Linked DNA regions of Homo sapiens. The protein of the gene in region 2 purifies or fractionates together with the protein of the main gene of each other region. This does not show direct contact. Each region holds a gene or a part of one and is shown on either strand. Other genes may lie near its edges.

Region 1 (4,994 bases), on a different chromosome or scaffold from region 2:
CTAAACATAGAAAGGATAGGGCAAAATATGGTATTATAATTACTGCATTCATATATTTGGTCCACCATTGATTGGAAGATTGTCATGCAGTACACGACTGTATTCCTTCTCTTCCAATCTTTTATCTTCCTAACATATTAATTCAATGACGATAATAGAAAATTGGGCCCATTTGATAAAGGAAAATCTTCTAGTCTTCATTAATTTAACAAATATGCATTATCTACTGCCAGGCATATGGTAGAAACCAGGGATACAGAGAGGGTGTTATTTTGGGTGCAAATATTTAAAACCTAAGTAATCAAGTTTAGGATAAAAAAGTGATAATTGTGCCAGAGAGGGGTTTATTGGAAAGATAAAGAGAAATCTTGGGGATTCTACAGAAAAACTGAATGTTGGTTCTCAAGAAGGGTAGGAACCACATCTTGGAAAACCACCAGAAATGTAGGCAGCCATTTTTATCTCCCCTTAGAGCCTGTGGACTCTTGTCTCTTCTCATCTACATGCTTTCTCATCTAAATTTATGTATTTCCAATTCCAAACGACCAACCCACACTGCCTAGGGCTTTTAGCTCTTTGTTCCAAATTCCTGGAAGAGAGGATCTGATGGACATTGTTTTGGTCAGATATTCACCCCTGACCATCAGGAATGGCTTGGAGTACAGGGTGCTTACCCCCTCAAGAGGGTTGCCAAGGATTCTATTGCCATGTGTTGAGGAGTAGGAGCAAGGAGATAGAGCAGGACCAATGTTACAATAAGAACCCACTATTAACCCCCAAGAATCTGTCTTGTGAGGGAGATAAATAGTTATCATACATGCGATAAGTCCCACACCAGCACATGAAAAGATTAGAAGAACAAGAGAAGGGAAGAAACCTACTGACCTGTTTCAGGGTGGGATGCTTCATAAAGAGGATAACAGTTAAGCCACTAACAGTAATGCCTCTAATCTTGAATCTGTTACCTACTAGTTTTGTGTCCCTGGGCAGGTAACTTCATGTTTCCTTGCATCAGCTTACCTTTAAAATGAGAATAATGATAATTATCTAACAGGGTCCTTACTGAGGATTCTGTGAGATAATGCATGGAAAGAGCTTAAGTCCATGCCCAGGAAATACTAAGTGCTCAAAGTAAAGCATTTTTTTTTCCTTTTTTTATTACCTAGTCCCACAGAGCAATTTTTTTATATCAAGATTAGCTTTAAATTCAGAAGGAAAGGAATACTGAATGTCTCATTGCCAGTAACCTTATATTGATGCATGTTTGACTTGAGACATTTTTGAGTCTTTTTAATGTAATACAGGTTTCTGTTGAAAACAACACTGTTGTCAAAAAGTATGCATGAGCGTGTGTGTGTGTGTGTGTGTACACATGTGTACTTTAAGATGTCTGCAAACTAAATTTCATCTGAGAGTGAAATGGGATTTTGGAAGATAGTCAAAGGAGATTTAGTTATAAGGATTTTTTTTCCCCAAGTAATGGAATATACAGTCAACATATCATTATAAATTGATTTTATTTATTTATTTATTTATTTTTGAGACGGAGTCTTGCTCTGTCACCCAGGCTGCATCTTACATGATCTTGGCTCACTGCAATCCCCGCCTTCTGGGTTCAAGCAATTCTCGAGTCTCAGCCTTTGTACTAGCTGGGATTACAGGCACCCACCACCACGCCCAGCTAATTTTTTGTATTTTTAGTGGAGACGGGGTTTCGCCATGTTGGCCAGGCTGGTCTTGAATTCCTGACCTCAAGCGATCCACCCATCTCAGCCTCCCAAAGTGCTGGGATTACAGGCGTGAGTCACCGTGCGCGGCCACAAATTGATTTCTAAAATATGTGTAGATTGGTGTTCCTTCGGGCTAGTGTGGTAGGTCCTCAATCTTAAAGCTTCAGGAATCATCAGTATAGAAGCCTCAGCTTTTGAGTGAGTCTTCACATAGGCTGTTTTCTTTTCTCTAGGCTCTGTGATCCTCTACCTTATGATATAATAGTCGATCCAATGTGTGGAACTGGGGCAATACCAATAGAGGTAATCATATTTCTTTAGCTTTTAGATAAGAGTGATACATCCAGAATATTCTAGACCTAATGGGCAAATTAGACATAATGAAATCTCCATGGTTGGATCAGTGGACCCAAGAGTTTTAAAACAATTAACAATAGAAAGTGGAACTTTTTTGTAAAGAATGTAACTACTTATTTCAAAGAGCCATGTGCCACTGGCCTAGATACATTGTTAGTGACATCTATTCACTAGATTACAGAGGAAGCTGAGAATTACAAACTGCCGATGAGTCCTCTTTGTGTAACAGACAAGCTGGTAGACTTGAATGGGAAAAGATAATTGAAGGCATAAGCATAAACTGGAGGAAGGCAATTTTCTTCTCTGTAATCCACTTAAGTTCCTAGAGGGAATAAGTATAGTTGTAAAAAGGGGAAACTTATGAACATTACTTGGATTTTTTAGGAAGTCTAACAAGCTTAATACCAAATGCTCTTAGTTTTCAAAATTACCATGATATTGAGAGGACTCATAAAAACTGTGTAAAGCAAAGCAAGAAATGGAAAGGCATTTTCTAAATGGAGAATATTTCACAGTAGATTCCCCTTGAATAATCAGTATCATCTATATGTTTTTAAAGAATTTAGAAGAGGGAGCTCCCAGTAAAATCACTGAAGTTTGTGTGAAACATAGTAGTTCTTCCATATAGTATACTGACAGCCAATTTGAATAAACTGCAGGGAGACACAGCAGATTATATGATTGGGTAGAAACTGGACAGATGAGCAAGTCCAAAGCAAGCCCACAAGGGGAGAAATAATCCAAACTGTAATTAGAAAATGGTATCTGTTCTGGGAGTTAAAATCCAAGACTGAAATCATAGAAGTCTACATGTGACTGTGTTCCGTGAAAGCTAGAGAAATTACTGTGGCTTAAAGAGACTGCACAGTAAAAACCCAGTCCTTCTTGTGGCCAAGAAGGATTCTGGGAAGAAAGCAGAGTGTTGTTTTCTAGTATGAAATCATGATATGTGTATGAAATAGCAGGTAAGGTCACCGCATGTCAAGAAATACACAACAGAGCTCCGAGTAAAAATAAAGGCCGAAAAAAATTAAAACATGAAGTTTGAGCCATTTCCATGTAAGAGTAGACATGCAGATGTCAATGTAGAAAAACCTAAGCCGATATATGATCAAAATGAATAAAATTATGAATAAATTGACAAGGTATATATAAAGATTTGTTCACCAAAGTATAAAATACTTGATCTAGAATAATTTTTTTTTTTAATTTAGAAGTGTTATGCTATAAAACCCAATTCTTTCCAATGCTGAAAATCCAAATAGGTTTAGGAAAAAAAAAAAAGAATATTTGGGAATCGGAATCACTGAGAGCCTTCCTCAAACTCTAGGTCCCCTCTACATCCCCACCCACCCAAAATTCTGGGATACTTCAACTTCCCTTTTGTTTGATGTCATCGTAGGATTGTAGACAGGGTATGTTATCACCCTCAAGTGTCTGGGCAAAAGAAAAAGTTATGAAACACTGCACTCATGGATGAGAAGTATGTTACTGTTCACAAAGGAACACAAAGGTGTTTGCTACTCACCCCTAAGCAGAGGCAGACCTTTCCCGGCTTTCGTGTCAGAAACCTTCTGTTAATCTGCATAGAACATTGTTCAGGCCTAGGGTCACGTCACCTCATTCCACAAATGACATGTGACAGCTTGGTATTTATGTTCTGCTGACAGGTTTTTTATTTATAATTACAAAATCCTTCCAGTGATATGGTGGTTACCATTCAAAAGCCTATCATACAAAGGAAATTGCATTTTACTATTATTTTTTTGACCTGGGGTCTTGCTCTGTCAGCCAGGCTGGAGTGCAGTGGTGTAATCTCAGCTCCCTGCAACCTCTGCCTCCCTGTCTTAAGCCATTCTCCCACCTCAGCCTCTCGAGTAGCTGAGACTCAGGTGCACACCATCACACCCAGCTGATTTTTGTGTTTTTGTAGAGATGGGCTTTCACCATGTTCCCAGGCTGGTCTCAAACTCCTGGGCTCAAGAAATCCTCCTGCCTCAGCTTCCCAAAGTGCTGGGATTTCAGGTGTGAGCCACCATGCCCGGCCGGAAATAGCATTTTATTTTGCAATTTTCAAATATATCAGATTATGTAAACTCCCACAACCACAAATCTCAAATATTTTCAAACCGCATTAACTTAGAATTTAGTGTGCCAGACACTGCTGGATGAGGAACTGAATAAAATACTAGACCTGACCTCAGAGAGCTCCCAGGTTAGTTGAGAGGCATAAAGGGGAAGAAATAATTAACCGTGGGACAAGTGCAGTGGCAGAGGTACGTACATACAAAGTGTTTTTGGGAGGGGCACATAAGACTGCTTGGAGAGTTAAGGTTGATGTTGAAAGGGCATGAGGTTTGAGCTGGGTCTTAAGAGATGGGTAGAGGTTCAGCAAGCAGAGAAAGAATAAGAGGGCATTTTCAGCCAGGGAAATAGCACAGTTGACAACATGCAATGTTTTGCCACTCTAGAAAAGCACTGGATTTTCTTTGTTTGTTGACAATTTAATCATATTTTACAGTTTGCTACTTTTGTTTTAACATACACTCTTATCTTTTAGGGGGCCACTGAATGGTCTGACTGTTTCCATATTGCTGGTGATAATAATCCACTGGCTGTGAATAGAGCAGCAAATAACATTGCATCTTTATTGACCAAGAGCCAAATTAAAGAAGGGTAAAAATTTAAAAGATTTCTTAGCATCTTTTAGAGTTAGAGAATCACTTTTTATATTGACTTTATGAATTAAAACTCCCAGTGCATTGTGACGTCATTGTAACCAAAATGAATATACTATGAGACTCCATTTACATTTTTAAAGTTTATTGAAAATAAGTTATATTTTTAAAATATTATTTTAGCGATAATTTCCCCACCATATGCAATTTTTCATTTGTCTTATTCATA
Region 2 (5,372 bases):
CAACTTAAATATATTTGGTTATAGTAGTCAAAAGCACTTCTATCATTTTGGATTTTGCCCAGTTTAAGCCTCTTTTTCTATAGTTGACTCCTTGTTTGGTAAGAAAAATCATGTTACTGTACAGTGTGTGCTTTGAACAAGTTACTGATAGAGAAAGGATCAAGTCCACTCATTGAGATGATTTGGAGGGTAGGTATGTTTGACAGGGGATAATGAAATAGAATCTGAGCAATTTTAAGAGTGTCTTACTAAAAGCTTCCATTAAAGTTAGAAGGTATAGATAAGAATGATTAAGGATAACTGTTCAATTATGGTATAGCCACTTGCTATATTAAAAGGATACCAAAAACAAAATGCTTTGTTAGAAACGGAGATGGTAAGTTTTTGGGACGTTAACTGCTCCAGATACGTAGTGTTGTGTGTCTTATGATGCTTTGACTTTTTTCATCTTAGTTTTAGTCCTAACTTAGAATGATTATTTTTTCTTGCCACTGAATCAACTTCTTTTCTTATTTGGGAGATTACAAGATTTGAAAAATACTTCTGTCATAACAATTTATATTTTGCAAAATAACTTTGATGGTGATTTAAGTTGTTTACCCAATTTTATTCATTCTAAATATCTGTTTATATAAAAGTATTTTGAAATAAATGTTTAGGAAGAAAAAGATGAATTTATACATTATGAATACTGTAAATAGAAGATTCAGTCATTTTTATATATGAAATGGGCCTATACAAAAATGAAATGGAGTTGGTCTAGCTCCAAAAATGTAATGAAAATGACAGCTGGGCCCAGATGACGCTACCATGATGTAAACCAGTAAGTAGACATGGTTCCCTAGTGCTTTCTTTGTCATGGAAGTCATCCAGAGTACCAAGAGCATACTCCATACCCTGCGTGGTGGAGAAAATCTGCTTGGTCAGAGGAGCTCCAAATTGTAGATGGTTTAAAAATATTTTAGCCTGGATGAGCCCCATCAGCAGCACTCACACACCTACCCTGTTACCACATAAATTCTTGCTGTGCCGTAGTTCCACACTTAAGCATTCTGTTCCTTCCCTCATTGACCTGTTTAAACTTTCAGTACACTAGATATGGCCATGTCAAGCTGTAATTCATTCTTTGTTCTGAAAACAACCTTTGGCAACTCACAAAAATTCAAAAATACCAGCCCATTCACCTAAAGACAATATAGTTATATTCCACATTACAAATTTAAAAAAAAACTCATAAAGCTTCAAATGATATTGTCAAATATTTTAATATTAGTTTGTAAATATTATAGAGTGTTTATAGCTTAACTATTTTGAAATACATTTCTATATTGATTGCTTATATTTACTATTTAGGCATACAATGTTTCCATATGTATGTTTAAGAAATGTCAATTACTTTTTTATTCCAAGTTTCACAGTAAGCTTGCATAAAGAAAACAAAAAGGAAAAAGATGTCCTAAACATTTTTTCAGTTGCTTCTGGTCATTTATATGAACGTTTTTTAAGGTAGGTATATTTTTTAACCTTATATTTTGAAAAAGAAATATTTACATGGTTCAAATTTCAAAAAAAAATAAAGGAATATACACTGGGAAAAAAAAAACTCCCACCTCTGTTTCCTTGATACTCAGTTCCTTTTCTCACAGGAAACCCATAATATTATTTTTATATCCTGCTAAGGAGATACATACACACACACACACGTAAATATATATGTGTATATTTATTTATTTATTTCAGTTGTTTAAGTCCTTTTACCCAAATAGTAAAGAACATACTACTTTACACCTTGCTTTTTTTTTTTACTTAAAATTATGAGGTAAGTATATATAAATATGAAATTTCATGAGTTTGGCTTGATTTGGAATATTGGTTTTCTTCAAGGCTAGCAAATAGACATTTTGGATAGGTAAGAATATATATATATAGATATACTCACAATATATATATTTACAGTACTTTATATATACAATATTTATATATATATAATTTACTATAGTAAATTATCCTTTTCCAGTGAAGAAAACCTTGTTTTATAAAAAGGAAGGGAATGAGGGGAGAAATGCATATTGCAAAGTACAAAAGGCTATTTTTAAACAGTTTATATAGAAAGGTCACAGAGAATAACTCAAAAATATTTGAATTGTAGCACTGATACGTTAAAATGGAACTTCAGATTCATTTGTATCCTTTCCATTTGGAGGTTTAGGTTAGCAAACCAAATGACCCATCCAGTGAATTTGTCAATATAGATAGATCATTCAGCTCTTCAGGGTTTGTAGACTTAATATTAATCACACAGTCATGGACAGCTGGGCCCAGGTGAAGCTACCATGATGTATATGTATTCATCCTTACACATTACATACTTGATAAACCATATTTTAGTTTATTTCTTCACATTTCATTGTGAAAACCTTCTAATTCATACCTTCAATTATTTAAAAGCCTTTAAAAGACCTATGTAACAAACCTGTATGTTCTGCACATGTATCCCAGAACTTAAAGTAAAATTTAAGAAATTAAAATTAAATTTTAAAAAACACTTCAAGGTTAAAAAATATATATGAGCTCCTGTTACTGTTAATGTATATTGGGTTTAATATTCTTTTATACAGAATTATGATGCTTTCTGTTTTGCGTAACACCAAAACACCAGTGAAATTCTGGTTGCTAAAAAATTATCTCTCACCGACATTTAAAGTAAGTACATAGCTTTTTTTGTAGAATGGTTAATGTTTGAATAGTAAATTATTTGTATCATTGTAAGTTTATATGATATTTCTCTTTTCAGAATAAGCTTTTTGAAAAAATGGTATTTAGTATTTTTATGTAGCTTAAGAAAAATTCTGTACAATTTTTATTTAGAGATGTTCAAAGGAGAGGACAGAAGACTGTATATTTTTAAGTAAAATCAAAATCAGAATGGCTAGTAGTTTTTCATGATAATGAGTAATTAAATACAATTTGGCAATGGAAAATATATACAGATTTTCAATTAAAAGAAATGGATTCTGTCATTTTTGCAAAGATAGGCAGAAACAGTAGTAGTATCAAGAAAATACAAAGACTATACCTATACCGTAGAAAATAGTTTTACAGTACTGAAACAAAAAAGCTCTTTCGTCTGTGTAGTGTATTGATTGCTGGGCACCATGATCTGAGGCATTTTATATTTAGAAGATTTCAGGTGATCAACAGCTATTACCCTTTACTCAGCCCTATACTCCTGCTACAAAGTATACTCTGTTTCTTCCTATTCTCCCTACAGCATAATCAAATTCCGTGAAATTTAGTGTCTCCGCAGCAATTTGGTGTCTCATTCAACAGCATTTCAAATGAGTTTGTTTTTTCTAGACCAAAAGCAGTGGGAAAACAGAAGTAAAACTAGCCAAGCATGCTTTTATTCCTTAATATTTCTAGGCATGATGCCAAGTGTTTAACTGACGTTATTCAATTGTTTTTCATAACAATCCCACATGATAAGAAAACCAAGATTCAAAAGTTACGTAACTAGCTTGCACAGTTGAGAGGTACCTGAGACCACTTTTAGATTCAATAACTTACTATAAGGATTTATATAACTCCAAAAAACAGCTGTGCTCACAGTTACAGTTTTTATAGCAAAAGGACACAAATAAAATCAGCAAAAGGAAGAGATGCTTAGGGTAGGGTCCGGGGAGACCAGACACAAAGTTAACAGTTGTCCTCTCCCAGTAGAATCCCGTTACAGTGGATAGCACTTATTTCTTCCAGCAACAGTGTGTGAGGGTACTCGTGGAGTATTGCCAACCAGGGAAGCTCATTCAAACTTTGTGGTACAGAGTTTTTATTGAGGGTCAGCTGTGTGGACTTGGCTAACGGCCTGCATGACTAACCTTAACCTCTAACCCCTTCAGATGTTGAACTGATGCTTTGTGGCCCAAGGTCCTCACTACAAATAACATCATTAGCATACAATATCTAGTGTGGTCCGAGATCTGCAGGTAAACGTAGACATTCTTATTAGTCAGGAAATTCCAAGGGTAGAGGATATTTCCTGGGAGATAGGGTGAAGGGCCAGGGTAGGGGATATTTCCTGGGAGATAGGGTGAAGGGCCATACTTTTCTTTGAGCAAGAATCATCCTTTATAGCATAGGCCTGATATGAAACAGCTAATTAGAAACACAGCTGAGATTTGAACCCAGGCATTCAGACCTCAGGTGCTTAACCTTATGTAACAGCCCATTTGCCCTCCACCACCAACAGTGTCTCCTCCTATGCTCATTTGACAGTAGGAAAAAAAAAAAAAAACAGAAAAAGAACCTATAAATATAGATAAGAAGTTATACTATTTTTCTACTAATTTTTTAACATGCTTTCCTAGTAGTCAGACACTGAATAAGGGAGTATTTAACCCAAATAAACTGAGATAGAAAAATCTAAAGATTCTCTTAGCAGGAAAAGATATTATTCACCAGAACAATAGTGCTATGTCTGGATTAGAAAGTCTTGTTCCACTGCATGGCCAAAAGAAATACTGTATCTGAAGTAGTATTTTCCTTCTTTTTGTGATGTGTTTCTTTCATTCAAAATTTTTCTTTTGAAAACTTCTTAGTGAAATATAACATATACTCAGAAAAGTGCACAAATCATGAAATTTAGCTTTGGATTTTTACAAACTCAAACATCTGTGTAAATCAGCAGCCAGATACAGAAGCCGCTAGCTACTTTAGATTTGTTCCTACCAGTTTAGAAAAGTCAAACCTCCTCTCTTCATTCAAATATTTGCTAAAATTATACATACTTACACATAATTATTTTCTGACAGCACTATACAAACTATAATTCCCTCTCCCTTTTAATTTTTCTTCATAGCACTTTTTTCTGTAGATAATAGTTTATTTCTACCTACTTCCTCTAAAATACAAGCCTCATGAAGGTCATAATTTGTATTTCTTTTGTTCACTAATGTACCCTTAGATCCTAGAACAGTGCCCGTTTCAGTGAATATTTGGACACATATTTAATGAAGAAAAAATATTCTTTTTATTTTATCTGAATGTTTTATTTTATTTTATTTTGAAACCAAAACAATGACTCCTGGCAGCTGTTGTACCCCTAATTTCAAGATTTCACAGATAAAATTGGTGCTTCTTGCATTTAAAAAAAAGTATTTTAAATCTACATTGTTCTTACAAAGTCAGAGAAAAAAATTAAACATATAACCAGAAACTAGTTTCAAGTAAGAATCAAGTGGTAAAACGCAAATTCTATATTTATTAATTCATCTTTTCCAATTCCTTTTTCATTTTCTCTCTCAGTATTTGAGCTCTTGAACTAAATTTAGCCCACAGTATATTTCATTAACTGCTTCTGCTTTAAACAGGGA

Evidence for each region.
Region 1: the proteins of UGGT2 (region 2) and THUMPD3 purify together in Homo sapiens (affinity purification with mass spectrometry; one large-scale study listed by BioGRID and IntAct). This does not show direct contact.

Annotation. Positions count from the first base shown.
Region 1 is NC_000003.12:9,375,856-9,380,849, forward strand, and holds part of THUMPD3 (tRNA (guanine(6)-N(2))-methyltransferase THUMP3), read left to right. Parts: intron 1-1,963; coding exon 1,964-2,033; intron 2,034-4,647; coding exon 4,648-4,763; intron 4,764-4,994. UniProt on the Homo sapiens protein: Catalytic subunit of the THUMPD3-TRM112 methyltransferase complex, that specifically mediates the S-adenosyl-L-methionine-dependent N(2)-methylation of guanosine nucleotide at position 6 (m2G6) in tRNAs.
Region 2 is NC_000013.11:95,856,922-95,862,293, reverse strand, and holds part of UGGT2 (UDP-glucose:glycoprotein glucosyltransferase 2 precursor), read left to right. Parts: intron 1-1,410; coding exon 1,411-1,506; intron 1,507-2,618; coding exon 2,619-2,703; intron 2,704-5,372. UniProt on the Homo sapiens protein: Recognizes glycoproteins with minor folding defects. Reglucosylates single N-glycans near the misfolded part of the protein, thus providing quality control for protein folding in the endoplasmic reticulum.